Regions from separate parts of the Homo sapiens genome. Here region 1 is linked to region 2. Evidence: fine-mapped expression QTL. A gene starts in region 2. The other region holds a variant in brackets. All regions are shown on one strand. Distances are from middle to middle.

The links. PIP is the estimated chance that this variant, and not a neighbour inherited with it, causes the effect.
Region 1: its variant is fine-mapped to the expression of GJA3 in blood mononuclear cells (TOPMed, PIP 0.98).

The regions. Positions count from the first base shown.
Region 1 is chr13:20,119,605-20,122,104 of GRCh38, reverse strand. LOC105370101 (a long non-coding RNA gene) reads left to right here and starts at 2,316. Exons shown (of 3, transcript XR_941719.3): 1 at 2,316-2,400. The variant T/C (reference allele first, on the strand shown) is at 1,315.
Region 2 is chr13:20,159,758-20,162,257 of GRCh38, reverse strand. GJA3 (gap junction protein alpha 3) reads left to right here and starts at 1,206. Exons shown (of 2, transcript NM_021954.4): 1 at 1,206-1,368. RefSeq lists silencers at 556-915, 1,146-1,225, 1,386-1,475.

The sequences.
Region 1 (2,500 bases), 40 kb after region 2:
CAACCCAAACAACCCAATTTTAAAATGGGCAAAGGACATGAATAAACAGTTCTCCAAAGAATACATACAAATTGCTAATAAGCACCAAAGATGCTGAATGTCAGTAATCACTGGGGAAAGGGCAAATCGAAACCACAATAAGATACCACCTTGAGCCCATTAGGATGATAGGGTACATTTAGAGAAATATATTTGGTCTTTGTCCCTGGTTCCTAGCACAGAGCCGCTAAAGCCCTTAGAATTTCCTGAGTGATAGTAGTGTCTTTTGTTATTCATAATGAAGCACCTATTGATCACATCTGAGTTTATGCTACTGAGGTGACTTAGGGTGAACCCTTAGATAGCTTCAGGATGGGGTTGGTCACCGGAAAGACCAGGTAAGTAGGAGGTTGGATCCTTCAGCCTCACCCCTAGACCTGTGAGAAGGGGAGGGGACTAGAAATCAAGCTCTAAAAAAGCTCTTGAACAAGCAGGTTGGAAGAGTTTCCAAGTTGTGGGAATGTGGTGCACCTGCAGCCCCCACCTCATACCTTGCCCTGCGCGTCTCTTCCCTCCAGCTGTTCTATGTACTTGAGCTCAGTCAATGAACACAAATTCCCTACAGTATTGGTCTCTGACACCAAAGAACAACATTTTGACAAATTGAGTTTTAAAGATTTAATTGACTCTTATTAGCAATGTATGAAACAGGCAGCCTCCAGACTACAAAACAGAAGGCACTCGGCTGGGTGTTGCAGAACAATCGGCTTTGGTAAGGCAGCTCAAGCAGGAATGAGGAAATCGTGTGGTGAGAAAAGTGCATTGGTTATCATTGGGTGACTTTCTGAGGCGGAGAATAGGGTCTGGAGGCAGGGAACCTAAGGCCGATTTCACGCTGACTTCCTAGAACTAAATCAAAAGGAAAACCCCAACTTTTCACACCTAAGTAACAAAAAAACCGGAGGTAGCCGGGCATGGTGGCTCACGCCTGTAATCCCAGCACTTTGGGAGGTCGAGGTGGGCGGATCACCTGAGGTCAGGAGTTTCAGCCCAGCCTGGCCAACGTGGTGAAACCCCGTCTCCACTAAAAATACAAAAATTAGTCTGGCGTGTTGGCGGGCGCCTGTAACCCCAGCTACTCGGGAGACTGAGGCAGGAGAATCGCTTGAACCCGGGCGGCGTAGGTTGCAGTGAGCGGAGATCGCGCCGTTGCACTGTAGCCTGAGCGACAAGAGTGAAACTCCGTCTCAAAAAAGAAAAAACAAACAAAAAACCGGAGGCTACTCCCTTTGCAAACCCCCACCCTTTTCTGCCTGGCAGATGGAAAATTGAAAG[T/C]GTCTCTGAGGGCAGCCAATCAGACGTTTACATAGGATTGTAACTTTGTAACTTCACTTCAGCCTCTGATTGGTCGCTTCCCACAACCAATCAGCTTGATTGTGGGCCAAGTCTTCCTTTGCATAGAACTGTAACTTTGTAACTTCACTTTGCAAACAGAGGCTTGCATCGGGTGTAACCTTTGTAACTTCACCTCAGCCTCTGGTTGCAGGTCACTACTTCATTTACATAGAGTGTACACCAGGTAACCAATGGGAAACCTCTAGAAGGTATTTAAACCCCAGAAAATTCTGTAAAAAGAGCCCCTATGCTCCAGCGGCTCCCACCCTGTGGAGCGTACTTTCATTTTCGATAAATCTCTCCTTTTGTTGCTTCCTTCTTTCCTTGCTTTGTTTGTGCGTTTTGTTCAATTCTTTGCTCAAAACGCCAACAACCTGGACCCCTCCACATTTCCTTGTATGAGTTTAAGCGGAGGAAACCTCTCTTATGCAGGCTCAAGTGGACTGGCCCCCTTTTGACTGGTTGCTGGTAGTCTCCTATTTTTTCAGGAAAACTGGCCCTGGTGGGGGATTTTCCTGTTTTGTTTAAGTTTCAGTTTGATTACGTGGCACTTAGCACAAGTGATTCCATTTTGGTCTGGCCTACTGGGGCCTAGTGCAGGAGCTCAGCCCAATTCAATGGCCTCCCATAAATCTTATTTAACACTTAGCACCACTGTGCACATGTGGAAGGTAAAACTCAGAGACGCTAAGTATCTGAGTGTGTCACAGAGCTAGTAAAAGGCAGAGCTGGGATCAGATACATTGATTCATTCACTCAAAAACCTTTTTTTATCGAGTGCATACTATGTATCAGCCTCTGGGTACTGAGCATGGGAGCAGAATCAGACACCCCGAACTGACAGGGCTCACAGACGAGAAGGGGAGACAGTTCTCAATCATAGAAATCACTTGTTCTCACAAACGGTGACACGTGCTATGAAGAAAAAGGCCTGAGAACTAGGAGGGCATCTAGAGGCGCCCTTTCTGGTCTAGGCGTCCTACAGGCAGCTGGAGGAAGACGTCTGAGCTGACATCAGATTCATGGGTAGGAGTCTACCAGGCCAGGGGGGTGAGTGCCTTCCAGTGCACAGAAAAGCTGTCCGGTTCCCGAAAGTTTCTTTTTCTTTCTCTCTCTGTGTGTGTGT
Region 2 (2,500 bases):
GGGCAAGCCAACTGCTAATCCGAGTAGATCTAAACGCTAACGAAGGCAGCCGACGGAAGCTGCTCCATGAAGACACGAAAACTATCAGACTTGCATTTTGCCACATTCCTGGAATAAACTTATTACTCATAAAGGTGATTTTGAAGCCATTTCAGCTTGTGGAATGATCACCGAAATGCAGTCCACCGATATTTGTTAATATCCCAGGCTGGTCAAACCCCACTCCAGACCTTGGGGGACGGGGAGGGGACCCGCGGCCTCTCTAGGCTGTGCCCAGACAGCAGACAAGGACGCGATGCCGCCCTCGGTCCGCGGCCTTCCGCGGTAGGCGTCCCTCTCAAGCGTGGTAAAACCACCCCGAAGGGAACAGAAAACGTTAAAATCTTCGTTGGGCGCCAGCAGGCAGGTTAGGCCTCGCCCTGGCATCTCGTCTCCAGGACCAGATGGAGCGAGTGACCCGCGGGGACACCTTCCCGGTCACCTCGAGCGCAATAAAACAAGTTCTTTTTTTAAAAATAAGCATCCGTGTGCCTGCCGGCTAAATTAAGTGTGTCTGAAGAGAAGCAGGATGGCGGCCGCTATTTATAACCTCCCGCCCCGCCCGGGCGCCACTCCTCGACAGCACCCACGCTGTGCCCGGCGGCGCTTCCGCGGGGACTTCCTGCTCGGTGGTCCCCGCCCCGCCCCGCGCCAGCCGTCCGGAACCCGCGTCCCCAGGCGGCTGCAGGCGGGCGAGACCTAGGTGCCCGACGCCCACGCGCCTCCGACCGTGGGAGCGCCCGGAGAGCAGCTACCTCGCCGGGCCTGCGAAGCCCAGGACAGGCGCGAGCGGGGCGCGGGCTGGCGCATCTGCGTGCGGTGGGCGCCCCGCAAGCGGGTCGGGCCCGCCCCAACAGCCCTCGGCTCTCCTCTCACGTCCCGCGCGGGCATGCCCCGGAGTGCGTAGGCGGCAGGGAAGAGCCCCCGCGTCCACATCCCCAGGGCCCGCGCAGGTGCGGGATGGGGATGCAGGCGCTAGGCATGGACGTGCGCGCGGGGTAGGGTGTGGAATGCGGACGCGGGCGAGTGCTGTGGCTGCGCGTACAGGGTAGGGATGCGGGGGCGGTAGGTGTGCGTGCTGGGAAGCGCGCGGGGCGGGGCTGTTCGGAGGCGGCGGGGGCGTGGCGCGGCGTCCTGAGCTGCAGCTTGGGGGCGTCGGGCGCAGCGCACACTGGGGCTGCAGGGATGGCGATCAGGGCGGGGAGGTCGGGCCCTGGCGCGGGGCGCACGCGTGAAGCAGCACCGCACGTGTGAAAGGAATTCTTTTCAGAGCGGCCGGGAGCCCTGCTCCGGAGGAACGCACCCGGGTCGCCGCCGCGGCAGAGCGGGGTAAGGCGGGCCGGGCGCCCCGGAGGCCAGGCACAGGGGCCGAGGGCAGCGCGGGGCGGGGACGGGCGGGTCGGCGGCGCAGCGGAGCTGCCGGGCGAGCCCAGCGGGCTGAGACTGCCGAGCTGGGAAGCCGAGCCCCGGCACGTGTGCGGCTCCCAGCCCCCTAGGATTCTTTCAGGATTCTTCAAAAAGTTGTGGGGAGCTCGGGAAATTTGTGAGAAACTTTTGGAATAATTGATCTTCCTCCTTTGCTCCTGGAGGTCTGGAGAGCAGCGCCTCGTTTGGCTTCCCTTGATGGACAGTCCAAGGCCGAGTTTAAGTTGTTTTCCTGGGGTTGTTTTCCCCCTCGGGTGGAGGAAGCCGGGCTGTCCCGGACCGTCAGGCTGTAGGGCTCCTAGCGATGCTGAAATGCTTGAAAACTCTAAGCAGATGTCACCGCGCCAGCTAACGGCGCGCACCCAGCCGTCCACGGGCATTCAGCATCGCCGTGCTCCTAAAAGTCCTGTTGGGATTGTTTAGAAACAAGGTTGGCTCGCCTACATTTTTTTCAGAAACTTTTTAAAACTTTTTATTTTTAAGAAACACTGTAGCTATTAATGCCACGACCAGATTTCTCGACCTGTATGTTTGTTATGATGTGTTCAACTATAAGGAATTTGCAGAGGAGTGGAAAAGCACTGTCCGAGCCCCTTCCCGTAGGAGACTTGAGAAAACAAACGGCAGTGACGCGGCTGCATTTGCTTTGTTGCCGACTCCACACTAGTGAGCAAAATTCATCCTACCATGTAGAGTTCTCGGTTCGTGAATATGTGACTGCAACTTTAGAACTCCAGTTTTTATTTTATCAAGATGTCTCCAAAACATGCCATTTAAAAATGATTCTATACAAACAGCTGACAAGCGAATTATGGGTCTCATCACCCAGGAATTAAAAACCATGGTGATTTATGATGTGCGCATCACTTCACTGGCGGTCCATCCATGTGCAAGACAAACATTAAAAGATTAAAGAGGAAAAAAGAGGGATTTATTTTCCGAATATCAGTGTGTTCAAAGTAAACATCAGCTAGTTTGGCACAGATTCCACCTGCTCAGCAGTTTGGTTCATATCGAGATAAGCATCTCATAAGGG